Regions from separate parts of the Homo sapiens genome. Here region 1 is linked to region 2. Evidence: fine-mapped expression QTL. A gene starts in region 2. The other region holds a variant in brackets. All regions are shown on one strand. Distances are from middle to middle.

Evidence for each region. PIP is the estimated chance that this variant, and not a neighbour inherited with it, causes the effect.
Region 1: its variant is fine-mapped to the expression of DENND6A in whole blood (INTERVAL, PIP 0.98).

What each region holds. Positions count from the first base shown.
Region 1 is chr3:57,564,462-57,580,035 of GRCh38, forward strand. PDE12 (phosphodiesterase 12) reads left to right here. Exons shown (of 3, transcript NM_177966.7): 3 at 1-2,387. It overlaps ARF4 (ARF GTPase 4), which reads right to left. Exons shown (of 6, transcript NM_001660.4): 4 at 12,855-12,926; 5 at 11,087-11,212; 6 at 6,902-7,837. The coding sequence ends at 7,751. Among named protein-coding and RNA genes, the nearest start is that of PDE12, 16 kb to the left of the region's middle. The variant C/CA (reference allele first, on the strand shown) is at 5,368.
Region 2 is chr3:57,683,562-57,699,135 of GRCh38, forward strand. DENND6A (DENN domain containing 6A) reads right to left here and starts at 9,516. Exons shown (of 20, transcript NM_152678.3): 1 at 9,221-9,516. The coding sequence starts at 9,457. It overlaps DENND6A-DT (DENND6A divergent transcript), which reads left to right and starts at 9,644. Exons shown (of 2, transcript NR_135550.1): 1 at 9,644-9,781; 2 at 10,255-13,090. RefSeq lists an enhancer at 8,844-9,344 and silencers at 9,066-9,305, 9,416-9,515.

The DNA of each region.
Region 1 (15,574 bases), 120 kb before region 2:
CACAGTCCATTTTGCCCAGTAATTCACTTTAATGATGTTATCATGAAGTATTGATGTACTTTTTTTTTAGTGTATTGAAGTATTCCTAGGTTGCATTTGTGCTAGTTTCATACCATTTGTGTTCCTTATATATTGAAGATGGTTCAGTAGGGGAAATGGATAGGCTTTATTTAGTTGGCTTTCTTATACTGGATAATATAAACACTTTTTTTTTCTTTTTTGAGACAGGGTCTGGCTTTGTCACCCAGGCTTGGAGGGCACTGGTGCCATCACGGCTTACTGCAACCTCCACCTCCTGGGCTTATGCAATCCTCCCACCACAGCCTCCCCAAATAGCTGGGACTACAGGTGCGCACCGCCACACCTGGCTAATTTTTGTATATTTTATAGGCAAAAAAAAAAAAAAAAATGGTTTCACCATGTTGCCCAGGCTGGTCTTGAAATTCTCAGTTCAAGCAGTCCACCCACCTCGGCCTCCCAAAGTGCTGATATTACAGACATGAGCCACCCCACCCAGTCAGCACACATTTTTTTTTTTTTTAAATAAGACAGGGTGTTGCTGTTGCCCAGGCTGGAGCGCAGTGGCATGATCATAGCTCACTGCAGCATCAAACTCCAGGGCTTAAGCGATCCTCCCACCTCAGCCTCCTGAGTAGCTGGGACTATAGGTGCATGCCACCATGCCTGGCTAATTTTTTAAATTGTTTGTAGAGATGGGGGTCTCTCTATGTTGCCCAGACTGGTCTTAAACTCCTGGGCTCAAATGACTCTCCCGCTTCAGCCTCCCAAAGTACTGGGATTATAGGTGTGAGCCAGCACACATAGCCCTTTTTTTAAAAAAATTAAAAACAAATTTTTTCTCCAGAAAAAAACATATTTATCAACTTTTAAAAACATTTTATGGGTACATAGTAGGTGTATATATTTATGTGGGACATATTTCTTTTGATAGAGTAAATTGAGTATTCATCACATCAAGCATTCATTTGTGTTACGAACATTCCAATTGTACTCTCTCAGTTATTCTAAAATGTGATATACACACTTTTAAAAGGATTTATTGCGCTGGGCGCGGTGGCTCACGCCTGTAATCCCAGCACTCTGGGAGGCTGAGGCCGGTGGATCATGAGGTCAGATCGAGACCATCCTGGCCAACATGGTGAAACCCTGTCTCTACTAAAAATACAAAAATTAGCTGGGCATGGTGGCGCGCGCCTGTAGTCTCAGCTGCTTGGGGAGGCTGAGGCAGGAGAATCACTTGAACCCGGGAGGCAGAGGTTGCAGTGAGCCGAGATCACGCCATTGCACTCCAGCCTGGCAACAAAGCGGGACTCTGTCTCAAAAATAAAATAAAATAAAATTTTAAAAAAAGGATTTATTGCATATAATTCTTATATCCCCTGTGGAATAGTTTGGAGAAATGGTACATCCAAAGATAAAATCAGTTAGAAATAAACAGTGGCCTTCCTCAGAAAAGCTGGGCTATAGTGTTTTGGGTATCTTAAACCAAGAAAGGGTATTTCTATCCCAGCTGTAGAGTTTTTAATAATTCTATTATAAATAATGGAATCAGGCCAGCACAGTGGCTCACGTCACATAATCCCACTCTCCTTAAGAGCTTTTTTTGTCACTGCATATCAACTCAGTTGACAAGGACTGGCCCCCAAAAGAAGCTGCATACTCACTTGGCAGTCACTCCCCATTCTCCCTAGCTCCTGGCAACAACTTAACCTGTCTCTGTGGATTTGCCTATTCTGGACATTTCATATAAATTGAATCATAATTTATGTAGTCTTTTGTGACTGGCTTCTTTTACTTAGGATGTTTTTAAGGTTCTTACTGTTGTAGGATGTATCAGGAGTTTGTTTTTATGATGAATGTTCCATCTTATGGACGTACCACATTTGTCCATTCATTAGTTGACAGACATTTGAATTGCTTCCACTTCCTGGCTTCTATGAATAATGCTGCCATAAACATTTGTGATAAGTTTTTGAGTGAATATGTGTTTTTGTTTCTCTTGGGCACATACAGGGAATGGAATTGTTGGGTGCTGTGATAACCTTTTGAGGAACTGCCAGACTTACGGAAAGCAGTTGCACTATTTTGCATTCCCACCAAGCAATATGAGGGTTCCAGTTTCCCTCCATCCTCATTAACACTTTATTATCTTTTTGATTATAGGCATCCTAGTGTCAAGTGGCATCTTATTGTGGTTTTGATTTGCATTTCCATGATGGTTAACGATGTTAAGCATCTTTTCATGTGCTCGTTGGCCATCTATATATCTCTGGAGAAATGTCTTTTGAAATACTTTGCCCATTTAAAAATGTTATTTGTTGTTTAGCCACCCCTCCTTAAAAAATAAATAATATAATAATCCATCATCCCTTGCCTTTTCAGGACCATCCGGGAGGCAAATCTTTCTTAGTCTGTGCTTCATACATCCCTTTAGTTCCCAGCCTAAAAAAAAGAAACACTGTAACCAAAATCTGGTGAGTTCCCAGAAAGCAAGGATAAGCTGTCCAACACCAAGTACTTACATGCCCAATAAAATTGACAATGTGGTCGGGCACAGTGGCTCATGCCTGTAATCCTAGCACTTTGGGAGGCCAAGGCGGTTGGATCACTTGAGGTCAGGAGTTTGAAACCAGCCTGGCCAACATGGTGAACCTCCGTCTCTACTAAAAATACAAAAAAATTAGCTGGCCGTGGTGGTACACGCCTGTAGTCCCAGCTAATCCGGAGACTGAGGCAGGAGAATCGCTTGAACCCAGGAGGCAGAGGTTGCAGTGAGCTGAGATCATGCCACTGCACTCTAGCCTGGGTGACAGAGCACGACTCCGTGTCAAAAAAAAAAAAAAATTGAAAATGTATCATTTGAACAATATAGAAAAATGACTGACAAGGTCAGGAAGGAACCTAACTCCGCTGCCTCTAACACATGAAGCCATACTGGCAGGCATCCAATAATACAGCTACCTTAATTATTCTTTGCCTGTGTCTAGATAAGCACTTCTGCTATTCATTTCTCACAATCTTATTAGAATTTAACCATTTAAGATAAAGGGATAGTCCTCTAAAAGTAGCATAGTAAGAAATAACAGCAGCCAAGTAACCTTCCAGTAGTGGCCCATGAATGCAATGTCACATGTATATACTAGTAGAAATATATTTTCCCTATTAGATCCTCAGGTAATGAACTTACAGACTGTTATTATTCAATCTAGTTTTCATACTAATTCTACCAAAGCTGGTAACCAATATTTACATTATTGAAACATCCAGAAGTACAAGCTACCAGAAGGTACAAGCACTTGTTCTCTCCAGTTTCTCCCCATTGAAAAGCACTTGGCCGGATGCGGTGGCTCACACCTGTAATCCCACCTGAGGTCAGGAATTCAAGACTAGCCTGGCCAACATGGTGAAACCCCATCTCTACTAAAAATACCAAAAATTAGCCGGACATGGTGGTGTGTGCCTGTAATCCCAGCTACTCGGGAGGCTGAGGCAGGAGAATCGCTTGAACCCGGGAGGTGGAGGTTGCAGTGAGCCAAGATCACACCACTGCACTCCAGCCTGGGTGATAAGAGTGAGACTCCATCTCAAAAAAAAAAAAAAAAAAAAAAAAAGTAAAGCACTTGTTTTCAATGACAAGTTAGGAGTCACTTTCAAACCTCCATGACAAAGAACCAGGTATTTCACATTTAATTAAATTTGGGCAAGGCAGAGTGGCTCATACCTGTAATCCCAGCACTTTGGGAGGCCTAGGTGGGTGGATCACTTGAACTCTGGAGTTGAAGGCCAGCCTAAGCAACATGGCGAAACCCCATCTCTACAAAAATTAGCCAAGACTGATGGCGTGGGCCTGTAGTCCCAGCTATGTGGGAGGCTGAGGTGGGAGGATCGCTTGAGCTTGGGAGGTTGAGGCTGCAGTGAGCTGTGATCATGCCACTGCACTCCAGCCTGGGCGACAGAGCGAGACCCTGTCTCAAAAAAAAAAGTTTGATCATAGTAAGTGACCTGAAAGTAATTACTACTGCCTGAAAGATAATTCTGTATACTCAAGTAAACTGAAGTGTCTGAATGAGACACCAATACTCTCCACAAAAGATACACTTCTTTTTTTTTTTTTTTTAATAGAGATGGAGGTCTCACTATATTTACCAGGTTGGTCTCAAACTCCTGGCCTCAAAGGATCCTCCCGCCTCAGCCTCCCAAAGTGCTGGGATTACAGGCATGAGCTACCATGCCTTTTTTATTTTCAATGGAGGGTATATAAGGTAAGTGGAAAATTTCATGGAAATTGAAACTCTTAACAAAATATCAAGATATTACATCACAGAAAAGCAGCTTATGTTAAAGTGAGACAAAAGACAATGGGAAATGTTATGGACAAAAAAAAAAAAAAAAATGCTTATTGGACAGGGGAACCAGAGAGCAGATAATCGTACTATCCTCAACTCTGATGCTGCCAAGTGATCCTGTAAGGGAATCACAATTTCTCTTCAGTTTCTCTACTGACATTATTTGACAATTAGTTGACAGAATACTTTTTAATCTAGGGATATAATCAACTGTTCTGTACAATAGGGGCGGTCACAGAGAACTCTTATTGCTTGACCAACAGTAGGTTTAACATTTGAATGAACAGTAAGCATTGAATCTTGATAGCATCAACTATTTCATAATACTTCAATAAATAAGGACAGTGACAGTGATTTTATGTTTGCATAAAACAGGGAAAGGCTAGGGGTTATCTCTCAATACTTTCTCCCAAAACATTTAAACCACTTCTGTTTGGAAAAAGAAAAAAAGGAACTTTAAAAAAAAATACAAAGACTGAAGAAAAAATAATTTTTAGGGGTAAATGTGTCAAGTTGCTAATACTTTATTATTATTATTATTTTGAGACGGAGTTTCACTCATTGCCCAGGCTGGAGTGCAATGGTGCGGTCTTGGCTCACCACAACCTCCACCTCCCAGGTTCAAGCAATTCTCCCACTTCAGCCTCTCGAGTAGCTGGGATTACAGGCATGCACCACCATGCATGGCTAGTTTTGTATTTTTAGTAGAGATGGGGTTTCTCCATGTTTGTTAGTCAGTCTGGTCTTGAACTCCCAACCTCAGGTGATCCACCTGCCTCGGCCTCCCAAAGTGCCAGGATTACAGATGTGAGCCACCCCACCCAGCCTAATACTTTCTTTAAAAACTATAAAAATTACCTGGGCATGGTGGCTCATGCCTGTAGTACCAGCTACTTGTGGGGCTGAGATGGGAGGATCACTTGAGCCCAGGAAGTAAAGGTTTCGGTGAGCCAAGATCCTGCCACTGGACTCCAGCCTGGGTGACAGAGTAAAACCATCT[C/CA]AAAAAAAAAAAAAAAAAAAAAAAGGTAATTTCCAATGGTACTAAGAGCTGCTTTACATCACGAGTAAGATTACATAGATTCTCTAGTCCCTTTACAGTCCATGTAAACACCTTTGCATAACTAGGTTAAATACCTAGCCCTAACGCTGAACTTATTCACTGATGTTTTATATTTCCTAGTTGATGCCCCATAAGACTACACACACAACAATTATACTATAGTTCAGTTTTATCCTATAGGAAATGACACCTGTCTTCTTTGGAAGGAAGAAAGGAGAATTCATCCAGTTGGCTAGGGAAATTGCATTTCTAACAAGTAACACAAACTAAACATACACTTTGCCCTACCTAATCATCAACCAATTCTAATTTCCTTTTGGTTAATCCAGTGTTTTTTTTTTTTTTTTTTTTGGAGACAGAGTCTTGCAGACCGTGTGCAGTGGCGCTATGTTGGCTCACTGCAACCTCTGCCTCCCAGGTTCAAGCGAGTCTCTTGCCTCAGCCTCTCAAGTAGCTGGGACCACAGCATGCACCAGCACACCAGACCCTTTTTTTTTTTTTTTTGTATTTTTAGTAGAGATGGGGTTTCACCATGTTGCGGCTGGTCTTGAACTCCTGAGCTCAGGCAATCTGCCCACCTTGGCCTCCCAAAGTGCTAGGATTACAGGTGTGAGCCACCACGCCTGGCCATTGTTATTTATTTGACAATTCAAAAATATACATTTTTTTAAAAGTATGCATTTGATTTTGGAATTTTCAATCCATAAATTTAGCTGAATCTTTACAAGCCATTAAGAATGCAACATGAGAATATAGACAGAAACTAAGTTACTCAGTTATCAAGTTGAGCCCTTAAAACTTAATAGATGTAGTTTATGAGGTATACCTTTGTATGAATTATATGCAGCTTTCTGTTAAAGTTCTAAAATTTGCCCTGTTAAAAAGAAAAGTGGTTGTGAAACTTTTTTGTAGGAAAGTAGCATCACTAAGTCTCTATATTGGCCATACAAGTAGCACCTGAATTTTTTTGTTTAATTAACCTTAACTAAAAAACACATACATACATGCTTTTTGGGCAGTTCATTTTATTACAGCCTTTTACTCTCCCTACCCCACTCCACATGCCGCCCCTCCCCACCCCCCACCTGATTTTTTTGTTGTTGTTGTTTTGTTTTTAGTTTTTTAAGTAGAGACAGGGGAAACAGGGTCTTACTACATTGCCAAAGCTGATCTCAAACTCCTATTCTCAAGTGACCCTCCTGCCTCAACCTCCTAAAGTGCTAGGATTACAGGCGTGAGCCACCATGCCAGGCCCTCCTTTTACCCTTGATCTGACTTTAGAAAACTATGTTTTTAATAGTGTTCCCCATGCTGTTATACACATGAAAACAATCTAGATCTCCACTTTATACAATTAGTAACCTACCAGTGGGATCTGTGTTACTGTTCACAGTACATAAAATATGCAAGCAAAGTTGGCTACATAAGAAAATACATTTCAAATACCTTCAAAACTCAAAAAGAACACACACAATTACGTATTTTATCATTTTATTAGGAATAATTCCAAATGGGTTATGAAGAAAATGTATTCATCGAATTTGATGAGTTTTCCAAAAACTCTTAATGAAGATATGTCTGCCCAATAAACAAAACATCAGCAGAACTATCATATACTGAGCAAAAAATCAGGCTGATAACAAAAGCAACATGCAACATAAAAAAGACACAATATAAAGGAAGACAATCTGCTGAGTATTAAAAACCATCTAAATATCAATTCTTTGCAACCAGCACAGAACTAATTGGCTATCAAATCCAAACCCCACCAAGGTTAAGTTTGGCTGATGTAGGCCAGGAGTCAATGTAGGGGGAAAAATTTCCTCAGTGCAAGAGAGCTGAGTAGTGTTTTGGATCTTTCTCTGGCTGGTACAAGCAGTATTAGAAAATCTTTTTGGCAAGGGAGAGAAATAAATACAAATGGAATGCTACATTTTTAAATTAGCAAACTGTCTCAGGAATGATAAAGGTATCAGTAAAGTAGCAAGGGGATAACTTTAAAACATTATTTGTCTGGGGCTCAAAAAACACTCAAAACAATTTATTTAAAGGTTGCACAAGAGCTATGTCCAGGCATTTACGCTTATGGGAAGTAAAATTAAAAGAGGATACTTTTTTCCCAAGGAGAATTTCTTTAAAACCAAGCACATTGCTAAATAGCAACATTATACTCGGTAAACAATAATTGGCAACAAAATAAGTTTAATATTCTGCCCAAACCAGTCCCAGATACTGTTTAATAACCAAGATACAAACTAATTTTGTTGTAACAAGCCTAGACCAATTTTATCAAACATGTCCTTGGTTAGATATCCAATTTCATTTAACGTTTTGAAAGCTCATTTGACAGCCAGTCAAGTCCTTCATACAGACCAGTTCCTTGTGTTGCACAAGTGGCTTGAACATACCACTGTAAAGAGAAGACAAGAAAATACTTGATTAACAAAGTTAATATATAACACCAGTGTTTAAACTTTCTTAATCAAACTTAAGAGTCTTTTCACACCTCTTGCATCTCACAAAACTCTCCCATATTTAAAGCTACTTCTGGCTGGGCGTGGTGGCTCACACCTATAAATCCCAGCACTTTGGGAGGCGGAGATGGGAGGATCACTTGAGCTTAGTAGTTCGAGACCAGCCTGGGTAACATGGTGAGACTTTGTCTCTACTTTTTTAGATTAAATTATTTTTTAAAAATAAAGCCACTTCTACCTATTCTGGAGGTTGCAGTGAGCCGAGGCTGTGCCACTGCACTCCAGCCTGGGCGACAGAGTGAGACTCCGTCTCAATCAATCAAGCTACTTCTACCTATTCATTATATTTAGACAAGATTTTCCCCCCTCATTCAGCTTTCTTTTCAGTGCTGGTTTTTGGTTCCCTTTTAGTAAACTTTCTACCACTTAATCTGAAAAAAGAAATCATGGGGAAATTAGTAACTAATAAACTACCCATCTGGTTTTTATAACTCTCGTTTCCCATAAAACTAAACTCAAAGTAGAAGAGGCAAATTTTTGAAAGAGTAGGGTTTGTTAGGCCGGGCGTGGTGGCTCACACCTGTAATCCCAGCACTTTGGGAGGCTGAGGCGGATGGATCATGAGGTCAGGAGATCGAGACCTTCCTGGCTAACGCAGTGAAACCCTGTCTCTACTAAAAATACAAAAAATTAGCCGGGCGTGGTGGTGGGCGCCTGTAGTCCCAGCTACTCAGGAGGCTGAGGCAGGAGAATGGCATGAACCCAGAAGGCAGAGCTTGCAGTGAGCCGAGATCGTGCCACAGCACTCCAGCCTGGGTGACAGAGCAAGACTCCATCTCAAAAAAAAAAAAAAGAAAGAAAGAAAGAGTAGGGTTTGTTGATATTTTAAGGGCAAGCTTTTCAGACAATTTCACCATCTTTAGTCTCATGCATTCCAAAACGTTCTTGCTTTTAAATGGCAACGAATCTTATCTCTAGTAACTGTGTGAAAGTATCAAAAAAAACCTAGAAAACAATTTACATTTAAGGCATAGTTTACTTTTATTAATTTTTTTGACCAGTTTAATGTTGCAAGGCCACTGCAGGTATACCATGTTGCCAATTATTTGAATACCAAATCTCAGTAACCTAGGAGGCTGGGGAAAGGCTCAAATTCATACCTTCACAGCATGGAAAACTTGTATCATTTACAGTTAGTGTTGCTTGCTTATTTATTGATTGATCGACTGATTGTTTTGAGGCAGAGTACTCACTCTTGCCCAGACTGGAGTGCAGTGGCGTGATCTCGGCTCACTACAACCTCCGCCTCACAGGCTCAAGAGATTCTCGTGCCTTCAGCCTCCCAAGTAGCTGGGGTTACACACATGCACCACCACGACCAGCTAATTTTTGTAATTTTAGTAGAGACAGAGTTTTACCATGTTGCCCAGGCTGGTCTCGAACTCCTGGTCTCAAGTGATCCGCCCACCTTCGCCTCCCAAAGTGCTGGGATTACAGGTGTGAGCCACCACACCCGGCCCAGTTTATGTTCTTCAAATCAGCCTGAGATATCTCAAACAGGCAATAGGTTGTTTTTTTTTGTTTGTTTGTTTGTTTTGAGACGGAGTCTCGCTCTGTCACCCAGGCTGGAGTGCAGTGGCGTGATCTCGGCTCACTGCAACCTCTGCTGCCTGGGTTCAAGTGATTCTCCTGCCTCAGCCTCCAGAGTAGCTGGGCTTGCAGATGCCTGCCACTGCACCTAATTTTTTTGTAGTTTTTAGTAGAGATGGGGTTTCATCATCTTGGCCATGTTGGTCTTGAATTCCTGACCTCATGATCCACCCACCTCAGCCTCCTAAAGTGCTGGGATTACAGGCGTGAGCCACTGCACCCGGCCTGCAATAGGTTCTTTGTTGTTTGTTTCATTTTTTACCACAGCCACAGTATTTCCCTTATTTACAGGTTAATGCAAAACTACTGTAAAAAGCCTATGACACTAAGTTTCTGATAATTTATCTCCATCACTGAATCACTGATCAATGATAAGCAATTTTAGAGAAGTACAAATTTTTTTTTTTTTTTTTAAAGAAACAGTCTTGCTCTGTCACCCAGGCTGGGGTGCAATGGGCACAATCACAGCTCTCTGCAGCCTCCAACTTCTGGGTTCAAACAGTCCTCCCACCTCAGCCTCCCAAGTAGCTGGGACTAAAGGCACATGCCACCACACCCAGCTAATTTTTATTTTTGTAGAGATAGGGTTTCACTTTGTTGCCCGGGCTGGTTTGGAACTCCTGGCCTCAAGCAATCCTCCTGCCTTGGGTTCCCAAAGTATTGGGATTACGGGTGTGAGCCGTGGTACCTGGTCTCCTCCATAAACTGTTATGTTAACAAGCAAACAAGGCTGGGCACCATGGCTGGAATCCCAGCGCTTTGGTAGGCTGAGATAGTGAGAGGATTGCTTGAGTCCAGGAGTTCAAGACCAGCCTAGCAACAAAGCGAGACCCCCCATCTCCACTTTTTTTTTGAGACCGAGTTTCGCTCTTGTTGCCCAGGCTGGAGTGCAGTGGCGCGATCGCGACTCACCGCAACCTCCACCTCCTGGGTTCAAGTGATTCTCCTGCCTCAGCCTTCCTGAGTAGCTGGGATTACAGGCATGCGCAACCACACCTGGCTAATTTTGTATTTTTAGTAGAGACAGGGTTTCTCCCTGGTTGGTCCGGCTGGTCTCAAACTCCCGACCTCAGATGATCTGCTCACCTAGGCCTCCCAAAGTGTTGGGATTACAGGCATGAGCCACCGCACCCAGCCCCCCATCTCCACTTTTAAAACAAGCAAACAAACATTACTGGACCCTTAATAAGAAAGCCAGATTTCAAAATATTTGCTGTAGGGTTACTTAAAAGATACAAAATTAAAATTAAGACTATCAATAATCTTCTTTCCATTCCTTCCACCTCTCCCTTCAAAAAAAAAAAAAAAGAAAAAAGAAACTATCAATAATCTTTAGACCTATTCTACAGTAGTTTTCCGTTTCTTTACAAAAATCAAATAAGGTATTTAAAGTTTATTACCATATTTTTAAATAAATGATGTGCTCATTATTTGTCCAAAGGAGATAATAAATGTTTAAACTGAATATTAGCTTACACAACTATCCTAGTAAGTCTTAATAGTCAAGAGGTTAATATCAACCTCCAAATACTTACTGTTCTGTTACGAAGAGACTGAAGCCCTAGTTTATCTGTCATTTCACTGATGGCCATAGCATTTGGCAAATCCTGTTTGTTTGCAAAAAGTAGCAGCACTGCATCTCTCAATTCATCTACCAGAAGCTGGAAATAAAAGGTAAGGCATTAACAACTACCAACCGGAATCCAATTTTTGAAAATGTCTTCCTATATATACTTTACTCAGCATTAAATACATTATTAAACATTAACCTAATTTCTCGACACAAAGTTCACTCTTACAACTGAAGTCTCATATCCTTCAGTTTTTAAATCCAGAGCAAACAATCATATGCCTTCAAATAAGACAGAACTGTTTTCCAAGTCAATCATCCTACACCCCATTAAATTAAAGCAAATCACTCATCATTCAGCCTTCATGATTACCCATTGTCAGGACTGATAAGGGCAAGAAATACATGTGGGAATAAAATGTTTATGGCAGGTTCTTATGGTACTTAGTAGCAGAAGTACTTAGATAGATGATGATTCTTTTCGGACTTCTATCCTTTCCAACAACAGTGGGACAATAACACAATTATCTGGGTGTTGGCAGTATCATGAAATATACAAAAAAAAAGTACCAAGAACAGAAGTTGTACTGATGCATGATGCAATATAGACGAACCCTGAAAAATTATGCTAAGTGAAAAAATCAGTCACAAAAGAACACATTGTATGTTTTCATTTATATGAATGTCCAGAATAGGTGACTGTATAAAGACAAATTAGTGGCTGTCAGAGGCTGGGAGTGTGGTGTACGAGAGGAAGGAAATGGGAATGACTGCTAATGGTCCAAGATTTCTTTGAGGGTGATGAAAATTTTCTAGTATTAGATTGTGATGATGGTTGTACAACTATGTATGCTAAAAGCCATTGATATGCACATTTAAAAAGGATGACATTTATAGTGTGTGAAGTATGTCTCAACCAAGCTTTTTTTTTTTTTTTTTTTTTTGAAGAGGGAAAGCTGGTGACATTTGACTCAGGCAAAAATCCAACAATGACTTAGTTACACATATACTGGCACAATGGTTTTACAAACTGCCCTCTAATCTTAGGAGGAATGAACAAGAATTAAGATTTCATTTCAGTAAATATTTTATGGCTACAAGTTTAAAATCATGACAAGGATTCTCAGCAGTCTTCCTCCATTTAGTACATTTAACAACATGAACACATGAAAACATTAATCCAATCTATGGGAAGGCTGCAAAATGCCACTGTGAACCAAACATTTGTCTCTACTTTCAGAAGGAATTCCTTATCCTTAAATGGTTACTATTAAAAAACATTTCTGAAGTAATTATTGGCACAGCATAGAGAAAATGGAACCGATGACCTTGGGAACAAAACATCTGAACCAAGATTCCTAGGGTCAAAACCACTACAGCACTATAGATTTGATATCTGTAAAGTAAGGGACTGAGCTAAATCAGATATCCTCAGCCAGAGATAGGCATCAAGATTACCCATGAGGCATTCTAAAAAAAAAAAAAACAACACTGCTCTGCCTTCCTCCCAACTTACTGAAGTAGCTACTCTTCCATGTGTTTTTTAAAACGCTCTATAAGAGATTTTGAAGTACATTATTAAGAACCTGTGGATAATATAGTTTCTTAAGTTTATTTCTAGCCCCCCCAATCCATTTGTGTAATCTAATCATAGTCAAAATGTACTAAACCACCACCAGTTTAATCCAGAAAAGCACACCTTGAAAATGATGAATTTAAAGTATATTTCTTACCATTTTCTGCAGCTCATCTGCTACTTCCTGAATTCTTTCACGATCGTTGCTATCTACCACAAAAATAAGACCCTGGGGAAAAATTGTTTCAGTAAATTTTAACAGTTAAACGACACTCTCTATATGAAACAGTGTAGGCAGCAAAATGGTACCAATGGTTAGACATTAGGAAGAAAATGTCTCTTTAAAAGTAAGAACTTAAGGCTGTAATGCTAAAAGCTGATTTGAGAACTATTTGTAAGTTTAATTTATTAGTGCTATTTCAAATCTAAAAAATTTTTATTCTTCACCAATTAATTACTTTTCTCAACTACCCTAAGAATAAATTGTATCTATTTTTCCCCTTCCCTCTGCACTCTCACATTTAAGTGCAGGTACCAAAATAGCCACAAAGTAGGAACAAAAAGAAAAATAACAAATCAAGGATCCTAAAGAATCGTGAATTTGGCCAGGCATGGTGGCTCATCCTGTAATCCCAGCACTTTGGGAGGCTGAGGCAAACGATCAGGCCTGAAATTGCTTGAACTCAGGAGTTTGAGACCAGCCTGGGCAACATGGCGAAAGGTCATCTCTACAAAAAAATACAAAAATTAGCCAGGTGTGGTGGTGCATGCCTTTAGTCCCAGCTACTTGGGAGATGAGGTGGGAGGAATCACGAGCCCGAGACGGAGGTTGCAGGGAGCTGAAATCGCACCACTGCACTGCAGCCTGGGTGGCAGAGCGAGACCCTATCTCAAAAAACAAACAAAAAAACCCCATGAATTTACTAACTGAATTAGCTTACTGACTCAAAGGCATGTACAGAGTAATAAAAGGGGGGTGGGATAGCGCGAGTGTGTACACTACAGTTTTTATCTGCTTCATCATGGAAGGAAAAAATTAACTTGCTTCAGAATGCTGCCTGCCAACTCTAGATCAGGAAGACATCTTAAGAAAATGATAGCAAGAAAAATCCAAGACTGGGCGCAGTGGCTCACTCCTGTAATCCCAGCACTATGGGAAGCCAAGGCAGGAGGATCACTGGAGCCCAGCAGTTTGAGACCAGCCAGGACAATATGTCAAAACCCTATCTCTTAAAAAAAAAAAGAAAGAAAAATTCAAGATTTACCTGATCGAGTAAGACATTCTTTAAAAAAAGGAAGGTAGTTATCAATTCTTAGAGATACAAATATTAGCTTCTTTTCTCAGACAGGGTCTCAACTCTGTTGCCTAGGAGCACAGTAGCACAATCTTGGCTCACTGCAGCCTTGACCCCCTGGGCTCAAATGATCCTCCCGCCTCAGCCTCCCAAGTAGCTGGGACTACAGGTGCGTGCCACCACACCTAGCTAATTTTTCTATTTTTTGTAGAGATGGGGTTTCACCACGTTGCCCATGTGGTCTCGAACTCCTGGACTCAAGTGATCCACCCATCTTGGCCTCCCAAAGTGTTGGGATTACAGGCATGAGCCATGGCACCTGGCCCATTATTAGAATTCTATACTACAAAATAAATGGAAGGAATTAGGAAGCAACTAGTTGAACTGTTTTTCTAAGAACTTTCAAATGGGAAAGTATAGAATTTTCAGCTAGAAAAGGGGGGGGGCAAAAATAAAAATAATAAAAAAGAAAAAAAGATAAACCTTGACTCCTAAAGTATCAATTTTGATCATGTCACTTATAACAGATTGTCTTGCACTACTGATTTATGTAAGTAACGAGGCTGGTTGAGGTGGCTTTCGCCTGTAATCCCAGCATTCTGGGAGGCCGAGGCAGGTGGATCACCTGAGATCAGGAGTTCGAGATCAGCCTGGTGAAACCCCATCTCTACTAAAAATACAAAAATTAGCCGGGCATGGTGGCACACCTGTAATCCCAGCTACTTGGCAGGCGGAGGCTGCAGTGAGCCGAGATGGCGCCATTGCACTCCAGCCTGGGCGACAAGAGCAAACTACATCTCAAAAAAAAAAAAAAAAAAAAGGAACTAGATTACATCCACTAAGGGCAAAGGACTATACTATATCTTTTTTTTCACCCAGGCTGGAGTGCAGTGGTGCCATCTCAGCTCACTGCAAACCCCTCCTCCCAGTTTCAAATAATTCTCCTGCCTCAGCCTCCTGAGTAGCTGAGATTACAGGCGCCCACCATTACACCTGGCTAATTTTTGTATTTTTAGTAGAGATGAGATTTTACTATGTTGGCCAGGTTAGTCTTGAACTCCTGACCTCAGGTGATCTGCCTGCTTTGGCCTCCCAAAGTGCTGGGATTACAGGTGTGAGCCACCGCGCCCAGCCCCATCCTACATCATTTTCTGTTTACCTCTCAGGATTACCACAGTACTGGGCTCTCCAGGAGCATCTAACACTTATTTTACATCCATTAAATGACAATTTCCTTTGTTTTAGCAAATTGTAAGTCCATTTCCTTTATCTCTGTTGGAAACCATAACTTAATTTTTAAATTTTATTTTACACTGCATCTATACCACCTGGAAAACCATCACTTTAAATATCCTATCCTTTGAGAAAACTTTTGGCTGGCATGGCACCTCTAATCCCACCACTTTGGGAGGCTGGGGTGGGAGGATCACATGAAGTCAGGAGTTCAAGATCACCCTGGGCAGAGTAAGACCCTGTCTCTACGAAAAAAATTAAAATTTTAGTAGGGCATGGTGGCACATGTCTATAGTCCTAGCTACTTAGGAAGCTGAGAAGGGAGGATCACATGAGCCCAGGAGGTTGA
Region 2 (15,574 bases):
ACAAAAATGCTAAAAGCAGTTCATACAACTCAGAAAATAGCCCTGGGTACTATTATTACACTGAGTATTAGCATGTAAACAGGAACACTTTGAGAAATGAGGTAAACTATTACTACCAAGAATTTAAGAATTTTAGTTCAAGCTACCGCTAGCATTTCACATCTTCTTTGCTTCAGTTTCCCTAAATAGTAAACAACACAGTATAGTGGGGGGAAATTAGGCTTCAGAATCAAAAGGACCAGGGTTCAAATCCTGGCTTATTAAGCAAGTGATATGGGGCAAGTTACCTCTTTAAGTTCCAGTTCCCTTATTTAAAAAGTGTTTAGCTCATGCCTGTAATTTCAGCACTTTGGGAGGCCGCAGCGGGTGGATCACAAGGTCAGGAGTTCAAGACCAGTCTAGCCAAGATGGTGAAACCCCATCTCTACTAAAAATACAAAAATTAGCCCGGTGTGGTGGTGGGCACCTGTAATCCCAGCTACTCAGGAGGCTGAGGCAGAGAATTGCTTGAACCCAGAAGGTGGAGGTTGCAGCGAGCCAAGATTGTGCCACTGCACTCCAGCCTGGGTGACAGAGTGAGACTCCGTCTCAAAAAAAAAAAAAAAAAAAGAGTTTATGGGCCAGGCACGGTGGCCCATGCCTGTAATCCCAGCACCTTGGGAGGCCAAGGTGGGCAGATCACGAGGTCAGGAGTTTGAGACCGGCCTGACCAACATGGTGAAACCCCGTCGTCTCTACTAAAAATACAAAAATTAGCTGGGTGCGGTGGCACGTGCCTGTAATCCCAGCTACTTAGGAGGCTGAGGCAGGAGAATCGCTGGAACTTGGGAATCAGAGGTTGCGGTGAGCTGAGATCGTGCCACTGCACTCTAGCCTGGGTGACAAAGCGAGACTCTGTTTCAAGAAAAGAGTCTAAAGCCAGGCATGGTGGCTCATGCCTATAATCCCAGCACTTTGGAAGGCTAAGGCAGGTGGACTGTGGGAGGCTGAGGCAGGCAGATCACTTGAGGCCAGGAGTTCAAGACCAGTCTGGGCAACACAGCAAAACCCTGTTTCTACAAAAAAACAAAAAAGTAGCCAGGCATGTTGGTACACACCTGTAGTCCAGCTACTTGACAGGCTGAGGTGAGAGAATTGCTTGAGCCTGGGAGGTCCAGGCTGCAGTGCACTGTAGCCTGGTGACACAGCATGACCCTGTCTCAAATAAATAAATAAAGTCCAAATATTACTTAATAATTAGTGACGGAAAGGAATAAATGAGGCTGGGTACAATGGCTCATGCCTGGGATCTCAACACTTTGGGAGGTGGAGGCAGGAGGTTCCCTTGAGTCCAGGAGTTCAAGATCACACTGGGCAACACAAAAATAAAACAATTTAATCAGGCATGGTGGCACACACCTGGAGTGCAATGGCACAGTCTCGGCTCACTGCAACCTCCGCCTCCCTGGTTCAAGTGATCCTCCTGCCTCAGCCTCCAGAGTAGCTGGGATTACAGGTATGCGCCACCATGCCTGGCTAATTTTTTTTTTTTTTTGTATTTTTAGTAGAGATGGGTTTCACCACGTTGGCCAAGCTAGTCTCGAACTCCTGACCTCAGCAGATCTGCCTGCCTCTGCCTCCCAAAGTGCTGGGATTACAGGCGTGAGCCACCACGTCCAGCCTAGAATTCTTGTTTATATGAGTTATATCTATCAACATTCACCACTGTAGAAACTAAAAGTATCATTAAAAAAAATTGTTTATTTATTTTAAAATAATAACCTATTACTCATTAACATATTCAATTTTTATGAAAAGTAACTATATTCAGGTTGAGTATTCCTTATCCAAAATGCTTGGTGGGATCAGAAGTGTTTTGGATCTCAGATCTTTTCAGATTCTAGAATATTTGAATTATACTTACTCAGTTGGACATCCCAAATCCAAAAACCTGAAATCCAAAATGCTCCAATGAGCATTTCCTTTAAAAAGCATCATGTCAGTACTCAGAAAGTTTCAGGTTTTGGAGCGTCTCAGATTTTGAATGTTTAGATTAGGAACACACAACCTGTATTCCTAAACAAAACAAAAACCTTACTAAGATGGCATTGTTTACATGTTTGCAAATATCTTTAATGTCTGATTTAACAGAAATAACTAGATTCTCATATCTGCTTCAGCATTCATTCTTTTTTTTTAAAAAAAAATTTGTTTTTCTTTAATGTTTGCTCTTGGCAGAATCATTCTATGTTCATTCTATTGCAATATGTTGTTCTGGTTGAAGAACATGAAGAAAAGCCATACATAGTTTGAAAACATCCTATAAATCCCCTGAAACGGTCTCAGAGATGCCCAGAAGTCCTCAGACCACATTTTGACAACAGCTGGTTTACAAGAAAAACAGAAAAGTTTATATAAAGAGAAAATTAAAAAACATACTCCAAACATGCCTACACATAATGATCCTCTGGAACTGATTCTGATTAAGCAGATGGGTGAGCCCCAGAATCCTCATATGTAACAAATGCCCCAGATGATTCTTATGATAAGAAGAACAAAATAAATAGAATCCCAATAATACAAAAATAGCCTAAATTTACCAAGATATAAATGTTTAGCCTCATTTTCAATAAGCATTAACAGATATTTCCATATCCCAGGTAAAACAGAACATAATCCTTTATTTCAAAGTTACATAATGGTGTAGAATTTTCAGGCACATATACCCTTGGCTCTCAAACAGCTCAAAGTTACTAAAGTTTATATCATAAAACCCAAGCTTAGAAATCTTTCAAAATAAATCTTTGATTACATAAGATTATAACTGCTCTCAGGTAAGGCAGTAAATGCTTGTTGCCTTCCAATACCATTCTTCCTTCTCCTTTTATTAATATAGGCATACCTTGTTTTATTGTGCATCATTTTATTGTGCTTTGCAGTTACCAGTTTCTACAAATTACAGGTTTGTGGCAAGCCTACATTAAGCAAGTCTATCAGCATCATTTTTCCAACAATGTGTTCACTTTGTGTCTCTGTGTTACACTTTGGTAATTCTCACAATATTTCAAACTTTTTTGTTACTATTGTATCTGTTACAGTGGTCTGTGATAAGTTATCTTTGATGTTACTATTGTAATTGTTTGGGGGCACCACAAACCATGCCCATATAAGATGGCAAATTTAATCAATAAATACATGTGTTCTGACAGCTCCACTGACGAGCCATTACCCCATCTCTCTCCCTCTCCTCAGGCCTCCCTATTCCGTAAGACACAACAATATTTGCAACTGGGGCAATGAATAACTCTATAATGGCCTCTAAGTGTTCAAGTAAAAGGAAGAGTCACACATCTCTCACTTTAAATCAAAAGCTAGAAATGATTTAAGTTTAATGAGGAAAGCATGTCAAAAGCTGAGACAGGCCAAAAGCTAGGCCTCTTGGACCAAACAGCCAACTTGTGAATGCAAAGGAAAAGTTCTTTTTTTCTTTCTTTTTTTCTATGCAACAGGGTCTCACCACGTTGCCCAGTCTGGTCTTGAACTCCTGGGCTCAAGGAATCCTCCTGCCTCAGCCTCCCAAAGCGCTGAGAATACAGGCCTGAGACACCACACCCAGCCAAAGGAAAAGTTCTTGAAGGAAATTAAAAATGCTACTCCAGTGAACACATCAATGATAAGAAAGTGAAACAGCCTTACTGCTAATGTGGAGAAAGTCTGAGTGGTCTGGATAGAAGAGCAAACCAGCTAGAACATTCCCTAAGCCAAAGCCTAATTCAGAGCAAGAGCGCAACTCTTTTCAATTCTGTTACGGCTGAGAGAGGTGATGAATCCGCAGAAGAAAAGTTGGAAGCTAGCAGGAGTTGGTTCATGAGGTTTAAGGAAAGAAGCTGTCTCCATAACATAAAAGTGCAAGGTGAAGCAGCAAGGACTGATAGAGAGCTGCAGCAAGTTATCCAGAAAATCTAAGAGAAAAGATGAAGGTGGCTACACTAAATAACGGATTTTCATTGTAGATGAAATAGCCTTCTGTTGGAAGACTATGCCCTCTAAGACTTTCATAGCTAGAGAAAAGTCAATACCTGGCTTCAAAGTTTCAAAGGATAGGATGACAGCCAGGTGTGGTCGCTCATGTCTGTAATCCTAGCACTTTAGGAGGTGGAGGCACGAGGATCCCTTGAAGCCAGGAATTTGAGACCAGCCTGGACAACAAAGCAAGACCCCATCTCTACAAAAAATTTAAAAATTAGCCTGGTGCATAAGCATATGCCTGCAGTATCAGCTACCAGGGAAGCTGAGACAGAAGGATCACCTGAGCCGAGAGTTCAAGGCTTCAGTAAGCCATGATTGCATCACTGCACTCCAGCCTGGGTGACAGAGTAAGACCACCTCAAAAAAAAAAAAAAGAAAAGAACATCTGCTTTGTAAAATTATATTTATGAAGAGTTTTTTGTTTTTTGGGTTTGTTTTTTTTTTGAGACAAAGTCTTACTCTGTTGCCCAGGCAGGACTACAGTGGTATGATCTCAGTTCACTGCAACCTCTGCCTCCCGGGTTCAAGCGATTCTCCTGCCTCAGCCTCCCGAGTAGCTGGGATTACAGGAATGTGCCACCAAGCTGCCTATTTTTGTATTTTTTTATTAGAGATGGGGTTTTACCATGTTGGCTACGGCGGTCTCGAACTCCTGACCTCAAGTGATCCACGCGCCTCAGCCTCCCAAAGTGCTTGGATTACAGGCATGAGCCACCACACTCGGCTTATTAAGAGTCTAATCATCTTACAAACTGTTTATGAGAATATTTATGAATAAAAGCAGACTCACAGTAGACATGTTTAGGAGACTGCTGCCCAGACTATGCTTTGGAAGTGTCCCTCCTATTGCAGGGGTGAGCCTAAGTGACTGCTACTGCTAGCGAAACCTTGTCTCCTAACCACAAGTGAACAAAATGGGACACCTGTCCCATGCTGAGCCAATCAGATACTCCAATATTAAGCTTCAGCCTCATTCCAGAAAAAGAGTTTGGCTAAAATTAGTACCATGGAAACCCAAAGTCAAGCAGAGTAACGGGGGAGCAGAAACTGAGGCCACTGCAGCACAAACCAGCTTCAGCATGGAGAAAAGAACAGACATGCAAAGACCAAAGACAAAAAAAAACACACAGCTCCAGAGACAAAGGCCTGGGGCTTTCCAAATCCCACAGGTTCATCCTTGCTTCCCACACACTTGGATTCCAAAAGACTGCCTGGAATCCTTACAATCACTGTCCCTTTACTTAAGTTTATTTGAGGTTTCTGTTCCTAACAATCAAGTTAATCCTTGACAGATACAAAATTATATAAAGAAAAAAAGTATTAACAAAAATGCCGAATATTAATAGCAGTTGCCTCTTAGTAGAATTAAGAGTGATATTTTCTAGTGTTTATAATTTTTCTTTTTTTTTGAGACAAAGTCTTGCTGTGTCGCCAGGCTGGAGTGCAGTGGCCCGATCTTACTGCAACCTCCACCTCCCAGGTTCAAGCGATTCTCCTGCCTCACCCTCCCGAGTAGCTGGGACTACAGGTGTATGCCACTGCGCCCAGCTGATTTTTGTATTTTTAGTAGAGACGGGGTTTCACCGTGTTGGCCAGGGTGGTCTCGATCTCTTGACCTCGTGATCTGCCCGCCTCGGCCTCCCAAAGTGCTGGAATTACAGGCATGAGCCGCCATGCCCGGCCTAGTGTTTATGATTTCTTTACTTGCCAAGTTTTCAGCAATGAGTATGTTATTATTCACTCAGAAAAAAAAAAAAAACTTGAATAAATAAGGTAATTCTGTATTCGGATAATTAAGGCTTTACTAAATAATTGGTAATTTCAAAGCTAAAAGTGAGGTACAGTATATCAAACCCAGGAGGTTTCAAACCTTGTTCCAGAGGACACTTTGATTCTGTGGTAATGCCTCCAGAGCCACTTCAGGGGAAAAGAAGCTCAGCACACCCCCTGCAGTCAACACCTTGTTCAGTTTCTTCCTAGCTCAAAGACCTCCTTAACCCCCTTCACTTAGGACAGGGCCTTAAAAGACATTTTATGCAAGGTGAACCACTCCCCCTTCTACTCAGGGCTTTAGCCAATTGTATCAGAGTAGGAACCTGCCCCAAACCAGGCCAGATTATCTTCCTCTGGCTTTGGAAGTGAGTTAAAGATTCACTCTTTTTCACTGAAGTGGCTAAAAACGTTAGCTTCTCACCTTAAAGATCAGAGAAGGGCTGGGCATGGTGGCTCAACACCTATAATCCCAGCACTTTGGAAGACAGAGGCAGCAGGACAGTTTGAGGCTACAAGTTTGAGACCAGCCTGGGCAACATAGCAAGACCCTGTCCCCACAAAAAAAATTAAAAATAGCCGGGTGTAGTGGTGCATGTCTGTATTCATAGATACTCAGGAGGATCCCTCGAGTTTAGGAGTTCGAGGTTGTAGTGAGTTATGATCATGCCACTGCACTCCAATCTGAGGCAGACCATGTCTCTAAGGAAAAAAAAAAAAAAAAGTCAGGTGCGGTGGCTCACGCCTGTAATCCCAGCACTTTGGGAGGCTGAGGCAGGTGTATCACTTGAGGTCAGGAGTTCAAGACCAGCCTGGCCAACATGGTGAAACCCTGTCTCTACTAAAAAAAACAAAAAAACAAAAAAAACAAAATTAGCTGGGCAGGCCAGGCGCGGTGGCTCATGCCTGTAATCCCAGCACTTTGGGAGGCTGAGGTGGGCAGATCACACTGTCAGGAGATCGAGACCATCCTGGCTAACACGGTGAAACCCCGTCTCTATTAAAAATACAAAAAATTAGCCGGGCGTGGTGCGGGTGCCTGTAGTCCCAGCAACTTGGGAGGCTGAGGCAGGAGAATGGCGTGAACCTGGGAGGCGGAGCTTGCAGGGAGGCGGAGCTTGCAGGGAGACGAGATTGCCCCACTGCACTCCAGCCTGGGCAACAGAGCAAGACTCTCTCTCTCAAAAAACAAAAATTAGCTGGGCATGGTGACATGCACCTGTAGTCCCAGCTACTTGGCAGGCTGAGGCAGGAGAATCACTTGAACCTGGGAGGTGGAGGTTGCAGTGAGCCGAAATTACACCACTGCACTCCAGCCTGGCTGACAAAGTTAGACTCTGTCTTTAAAAAAAAAAAAAAAAATCAGAGAAGGGGAAGAAGGCAGTTTGCAGGGAACATGAAATATAAACAAGATCTGCACACAAAAAAAGAGCAAAACCAAGAGGTTTCCCTGGTTCTGAACTCTAGCCATTTTCTGAAGCCCTACTAGGTTTATGTCTTAAATAGCTGGAAACCACATATATGGAACCACATACATGATTTCATCTTACTCAGCCTTTTCCTAGTGGAAAATTCACAATGTTCATATTTTTAAAAGATCCAGGAAGCAAAAGGTTAAGAACTCCTGACCTAGAAAAAACTCTATACAGTGGCATACACTATGGAAAATGAAATTCAAAATAAGTCCTTTAATAATTCACATTTTTGCAGCATCTCAAATATATTTTCTGTTTATTTGGTCAAAAAACATATTCACGTTATAAAGAATGTCCCAAATAATGAGAATCCAAAAGAATCTCCTTTAGCTATTTAAAAACACAATCAACTACAACAACCCATTCTTATGCTTTCTGGTTAAATTGTATCTTGCTGTACATATAACTTCAGGTTAACATGGCAAGGTGAATAATAAATGGCTTATAAATCTCTTACTCAAAATCTTTGGGAACTGTTTTTCTTACTTTAATAAGATAAAGAATTGCTCACATATTCACCTATTCTATCAAAAGTATTTATAGAATGCCACTAGGTGCCAGGCACTGCATTTGGCCTTATCAGCTACTATGATTAATTCTTGGTTCTCCTCTAAATTATTGCCTCAATCTACAAATACAGATTAGAGCACATCCTATTTGTATGCTCCACAACTAACATAATGCCTGGTTCTTAGTGGAAACTTAATGTCGCTGAACTGTGTTATAATAAAACATCCAGAAGGCAGGCCGAATACGAAAGCAGTAGCTTCGCATTAAGAAAACTACCCCTAGCCAATTTTCTTAGTCAACCAGGCCACTACAGTATTAATGAAATCGAAATCTGTCACCAATACCAAAAAAAAAAAAAAAAAAAAAAAACCAAAACCAAAACGTCTAAACAAACGCCCTTCTGATAACAATTTCCTTGGACACATGAAAGCAAGCAATTCCTTATGCTAAAAAGACCTTCAACAACGTCAAGAATAGATGTTTCTAAAGCCTTTCGGTAAGGGGCCATACATAAGAATGGAAAAGTTGACTGATTGACAAGCAAATGATGTTCCCTATATTCATCTTGACAGTAGTTTCACACCAACTGTTCCAGAGGCAACATAAAAAAAAATAACAGAAATGAGGCCGGGCACGGTGGCTCACGCATGTAATCCCACCACTTTGGAAGGCCTAGGCGGGCAGACCACCTGAGTCGGGAGTTCGAGACCAGCCTTACCAAAATGGAGAAACCCCGTCTCTATTAAAAATACAAAATTAGCCGGGCATGGTCGCATGCCTGTAACCCCAGCTACTCGGGAGGCTGAGGCAGGAGAATTGCCTGAATCCGGGAGGCAGAGGTTGCGGTGAGCCAAGATCGCGCCATTGCACTCCAGCCTGAGCAACAAGAGCAAAAACTCCGTCTCAAAAAAAAAAAAAAAAAAAAACAGAAATGAGGCACAAAAGGAGGAAAGGGAGAAAATGCGTGCTGAGATAAGCATTTCGACTCAGGCTGAGGGAAACGCTCAAACAGTTACTGCAAATGACTAAAACAATCTGAGCCTTAAAACTTGGTTGTGCAAGTTCGGCTACTAGAGTTCATCATCTGTTATGGGCATTGTTCTTGAAAAAGTACCAAACAAACATCCTGCCTGCGGGCTTCTCCGGGTGGGTGCTACTAACCCTTTTAGTTAATTCTGTGACTCTGCGTTTAAAAGAAATAAAGAAAGAACAGGATGAACATCAACAAGTATTTAGGAGGGGCCTAGAGAGAACTTTTCACCCCTAGCCGCAGCCCAAGATCCTCCCACGGGAAGTGCCGTAGGACCGCAGCCCGAAAGAGCGCGGGAGGGGAGACTGGCCACGCCCGGATGCGCCGCGGACAGGGTCCTGGCCGGTCAGCCCGCGGGCCGCTGGCTTTGCTGCAGCCGCCCCGGCGCAGGGGAGGAGCGCCGAGAAAGGGCGGGGCCGGGCCTCACCTCCACGGCCTGGCCCAGCTCCAGGTCGAAGCCCACCACACACACGCAGTGCAGCCAGGCGGAGAAGCTGTCCCAGCGCAGCAGGCCCCGGCCACGGCCATCGTCCTCTTCATCGTCCTCTGGCGCGCCTCCCGCCGCCACAAGGGCCGGCGCCTCGCGGCCCTCGGCCCCTGCCACCGCTTCGTCCAACGGCCTTCGAGAGCCGGGCCCCAAGCCCGCAGGGCCCCTCAAAGCCATCGGCCGCCCCCTGACCGTTCGCGCCGCCTCCACAGCGGACCGCGCCGCAGAGCGCGCTTGCCTCCGCGCAGGCGCAGACGCTGCTGTCGCAGCCGCTGGGGACCCACTCAGTCCGGGCGGGGCTGCGGGTCACGTGACCCTGGGAGCGGACGTGGGGACGTCACGCTGCCGCTTGTCTCGGATTGTGAAGCCGGTCCTGGCTTCCTTGTCTAAAAGCTCTTTGGGACTGAAATGGCTGTTTATGAATCCTTGTCAACCTCGTTCGCAGTCAACGACCAGGGAATAAATTATTCGTGGAATGACACAGTTCATAATTATTATAAGGTATTATTAAATTATGAAAGCGTAGGCCGGGCGCGGTGGTTCACACCTGTAATCACAGCATTTTGGGAGGCCGATGCGGGCGGATCATCAGGTCAGGAGTTCGAGACCAGCCTGACCAACATGGTGAAACCCCGTCTCTACTAAAAATACGAAAAAATTAGCCAGGCGTGGTGGAGCGCGCCTGTGATCCCAGCTACTCAGGAGGCTGAGGCAGGAGAATCGCTTGAACCCAGGAGGTTACAGTTAGCTGAGATTGCGCCACTGTATTCTGTCTACCCTGGGCGACAGAGCGAGATTCCGTCTCAAAAAAATAAAAATAAAATATATGAACGCATAATGGTGACGGTGGCTAACATTGAACGCTTACTTTGTGCCAGTTGATATGCCAAGTACAAGTGCGAATACTTACAAATATTACCTTATTGAATCTTCACATAATCGCAAATAAGTAGACTATTTATTTCTTTTTACAGATAAGGAAATGGAGGTCCTGGAGGTTACATGACTAGCCCAACAAGTATGACAACTCCGATATCGGCTTGCGGTTCACTCATTCAGTTTGCTGATTCAGAGATCTGTGCATTCACTCACCTGTTCCTTCTCCAGCAAGGCCTCCCCACCCTACCACCTCCTCCTTTCTTAGTTTGGCTGTCTGTGACTCACTCAACACACATCCCCAGACCTTTCTGGAACTCCAGGTTGGGCAGATTGGCCTCCACAGCAACCTGTGGATCTCTGAACACTGGGGCAAGGGCCTGGTCTCAAGCAGCTTCGTATTCTGAGATCAGTTTTTACTGAGTATTGGACCAGCCAGGATACTAACTAGTATTTATTCAGCACCTACTATGTTGAGTATAAATAGCATAGTAAAAGTAGGAAACACACAATAATACCTCAACAGAAAAATGAGTAAACCAGCGAGGTGTCACGCCTGTAGTCCCAGGTTCTTGGGAAGCTGAGGCCGGCTAAGTTCAAGGAGGATCGCTTGAGCAGGAGTTCCAGGCTGCAGCGCGCTATGATCGCGCCTGCGAACAGCCATTGCACTCCAGCCTGGGCAACAGAGCGCGACTGTGTCTCTAAAAAACAACGCAAAACAAAAAACACGGCAGAACTTAAGCATTTTGCTGCACTGCCCAGTGAAATCCATTCCATTTGACAAATACTGCCCTCTTAACATTCTTAGAATTTTTTTTTGGAGCAAGTGTTAGCGTCCCTGTTTTCAAGGAGGTGGTCAAGTATGCACAGACATCAGTAGTGACGTTTGCTGGAGACTTCCTTTAGACAAAAATGAACTTAGGGACAGCACTTAAGTTAGAGGCCAAGTCTTTGGCCAAAGTAGCCTGCCATCCTACTCCAGAGAACTGCTGTGGTTAAAAGAGGAAAAACTGTATTCTGCGATCAAGTAAGGCTCTAAACCCAGTATTAGGAAAGAACAGTAGCCTTTTGTATTAGAAAGAACACTGGCGTGGAAGTCAAAAGTTCTGGATTCTAGTGCCAGCTAGAATCTACCACGATCGTGGTAGGCAAGCTGCTCCAAAACCCAGTTTCTGGTAAATGAGAGTGATGATTACTAACTCACCTCACTGACTGTTGGGAAAAGCTAAGCTATCCTAATGTACACATTTTACCAGATGCTACTTCATTATTAATTATTAATGATCTCAAAACACCAGTTGTGGCCAAGCACAGTGGGTCACACCTGTAATCCCAGCACGTTGGGAGGCTGAGGCGGTAGAATCACGTGAGTCCAGGAGTTTGAGACCAGCCTGGGCAACATAGGGAGGCCCCGTCTCTTAAAAAAAAATTAAAAATTAGCTGGGCATGGTGGCACACACCTATAATTCCAGCTACTTGAGAGGCTGAGATAGGAGAATCACTGGAACCCAGAAGGTCAAGGCTGCAATGAGCCATCACTGTGCTACTCTACTCCAGCCTGGGCAACACAGCAAGACCCTGTGTCAAAAACCAGCACCAAAAAAGAACATAAGTTGTTCCACAGGGCTGGTTCTTCGACACATAGACACAAACTGCGATTCTGTGAAGTGTTGCTTTATAATATTGGGTTAAGGAGAAGGTCAAGGCTGCAGTGAGCCATCACTGTGCCACTCTACTCCAGCCTGGGCAACACAGCAAGACCCTGTGTCAAAAACCAGCACCAAAAAAGAACATAAGTTGTTCCACAGGGCTGGTTCTTCGACGCATAGACACAAACTGCGATTCTGTGAAGTGTTGCTTTATAATATTGGGTTAAGGATGATCTTGTCAAAATACAGTACCCTGAAAACAACATATTAGGAGAGCCAGAAGTTTCCAAAGAAAGAAAGCACACCAAAGCTCTAGAGAATTTTGAAAGTAAAAAACTTGTTTGGGGAGAAAAAAAACAAAAACAGAAAAAAGCATTACTTAAATCTTTATACACAGAAACAGAATAACCACTAGGGTAAACAAAGCAGCTATGGCTTTATTTCCCTCTACCTTCGTAACTTTGACATTCTGCCTTACAGTCTATTTTCACACAGTTTCTGTTGTTAATGGGAGCTGAGGAACAAGGTACTGACACCTTCTTATGGTTCATCAAAAGAACCTTTGACTCTGAAAGGATCTTGGATAGGATCATCTCTCCAAACTTCCTATTCATGGATCTTCTGACATTCAGTTAGCCAGCCTCTTTTCTAACACTCTCTATTAAAGTTAAGTCACTAGCCTGTGATCCCAGCACTTTGGGAGGCCAAGGCCGGTGGATCACCTGAGGTCAGGAGTTCCAGACCAGCCTGGCCATCATGGTGAAATCCTGTCTCTAGTGAAAATACAAAAATTAGCCAGGTGTGGTGGTGCACACCTGTAATCCCAGCTACTTGGGAGGCTGAGGTGGGAGGATCCTCTGATCTGGGGAGGCAGAGGTGACAGTGAGCTGAGATCACACCACTGCACTCCAGCCTGTGCGACAGAGGGAGACTCCGTCTCAATGAATAAATAAATAAATAGCCGGGCGTGGTGGCTCACGCCTGTAATCTCAGCACTTTGGGAGGCTGAGGCAGGTGGATCACTTGAGGTCAGGAGCTTGAAACCAGCCTGGCCAACGTGGTGAGACCCTGTCTCTACTAAAAATACAAAAAATTAGCCAGGTGTGTTGGTGTGCTCCCGTAATGCCAGCTACTTGGGAGGCTAAAGTGGGAGAATCACTTAAACCCGGGAGGTGAAGGATGCAGTGAGCCAAGATAGCACCACTGCACTTTAGCCTGGGCGACAAGAGCAAGACTCCATCTCAAAAATAATAAATAAATAAATAAATAAATAAATAAAGTTAAGTAACTACCTTTCAGAGCTACTATTTTCTGGGTGTTCATAAGGGCTAGAAAGTTCTTCCCTTTACAGAGACAAAATCAGCTACTTTGTAATACACACCCATTGGTCTAAGTTGTGCTTGCTGAGATTACACAGAAGAGTCCAACTCTTCTACATGATAACCCTGCGAACGTTTGAAAATAGTTATCCCACACCCACATGCCTTCTAGTTTTCAGGGTAACTACCCCACATCCTCCAACCGTTCCTCAAAAGATGTAGTTTCTAGGCCATTCATCATCCTGTTGCCCAACTTGGGCATACTCCAACTTGTCAACATCACTCTTACAGCCTGGGAGGAAATACCATCCTCCAGGTGTGATCTTAACATTGCAGAATGTACTCTGGGACTATTCCTTTCCTTGTCCCAGCCACCAGGCTTCTTTTAATGCCAGTTCATATCACATTTACTTGTTTTGGCAGCCAGGTCACATCACTGGCTCAGGTTGTATTTACTGTCAACTAAAGCCCTGGATCTCTTTTCATGTGAGGAGCACTTAAGTCAGGGTAGACTGTGTTAGCCAAGAGCATGACTAGATTCATGGCTCTGCTGCTCTTCTAATATTACCAAGAACATGGAACACAGGATTAAAAACATTCCAAACTTCTCTACTCACCCCTAACCAAAATCCTGGCAATTCAATAGTTTTAACAGAAGAAAGAAAAAATAAAAGGTTGAGCATCAGACAATGGTGTGAATTGTGAAATGCATTATCAGGTCTCTGGGCTTAGTTTTACCAAAAGGACCCACAGGGAGTCCAAATGTCCTAGATATTTACCTAGATGGGCAGCCAGGGGACTTCCCTCTTGCACTTAAGGTAAATGCTGCCAGGGCTGCTGGGACATAACTATACTTGCGGTGGTGAAAAAAATACATGGAAATATACACAGAGGCCCAATACCAATGTGTTATCAATAGAAAACTAAGTTTACTGCTGTACTTCTCTGGAAGACAAAAATGCTCAAATACAGATTTTGAAGGGAGGATCCAGCCAAAGAAAACTATAAAATGCACGATCAGGGCCAGACGCCATGGCTCATGCCTTTAATCCCAGCACTTTGGGAGGCCAAGGCAGGCGGATCACTTGAGGTCAGGAGTTCGAGACCAGCCTGGCCAACATGGTGAAACCCCATCTCTACTAAAAATATAAAAATTAGCTGGGCATAGTGGCATCCGCCTGAAATCCCAGCTGCTCAGGAGGCTGAGGCAGGAGAATCACTTGAACCTGGAAGGCAGAGGTTGCAGTAAGCCAAGATTTCACCACTATACTCCAGCCGGGGAAACAGAGCAAGATTTCATCTAAAAAAAATAAATAAATAAAATAAAAAATAAAATGCACTATGAAGTTTTCCCAGGTTGTGACAGCTTTAAAAAATGGTGGTTGGGTGTGGTGGTGGCTCAGACCTCTAATCCCAGCACTTTGGGAGGCCAAGGCAAGAGGATTCTTTAAAGCCAGAATTATGACAGCACACACCTGTAGTCCTAGCTACTCAGGAGGCTGAGGCTGGAGGATCACATGAGCCCAGGAGGTCAAAGCAGCAGTGAGCTGTGATTGCACCACTGCACAGCCTGGGCAACAGAGTGAGATGCTGTCCCCTCGACCGTTCCAAAAAAAAAAGAAAGAAAGAAAAAATAATGAAGAGCTGTTTTTTTGTTTTCGTTTTTACATTCTTATTATTGATACAATGCCTGGCATGTGGCAGGCACTCAGTAAATATTTAATGAATGAATGAATGCACTTTATTTTATTTTATTATTATTTTTTGAGACGGAGTCTCCCTCCGTCACCCAGGTTGGAGTGCAGTGGCACGATCTCGGCTCACTGCAAGCTCTGCCTCCCAGGTTCACGCCATTCTCCTGCCTCAGCCTCCTGAGTAGCTGGGACTACAGGCGCCTGCCACCACGCCTGGCTAATTTTTTTTATTTTTAGTAGAGACAGGGTTTCAACGTGTTATCCAGGATGGTCTCAATCTCCTGACCTCGTGATCTGCCCGCCTCGGCCTCCCAAAGTGCTGGGATTACGGGGTGAGCCACCGCGCCCGGCCATGAATGCACTTTAAAAAAGCATCTTGACTTTAGGAGGCCAAGGCAGGCGGGTCACAAGGTCAAGAGATCGAGACCATCATGGACAACATGGTGAAGCCCTGTCTCTACTAAAAATACAAAAATCAGCCAGGCGTGGTGGCACATGTCTGTAGTCCCAGCTACTTGGGAGGCTGAGGCAGCAGAATCACCTGAACCCAAGAGGCAGATGTTGCAGTGAGCCAAGATCACGCCACTGCACTCCGGCCTGGCGACAGAGCGAGACTCTGTCTCAAAAACAAAAAAAAAAAAAAACAAAACAAAAGCATCTTGAACTGCTCTTTCCTTATTTTAAAGAATTTTCCTTTTACTGTCACTTGTATGAATACATGAAAAGTTAACATAAAAATGTTTCTTAAGTGTAATG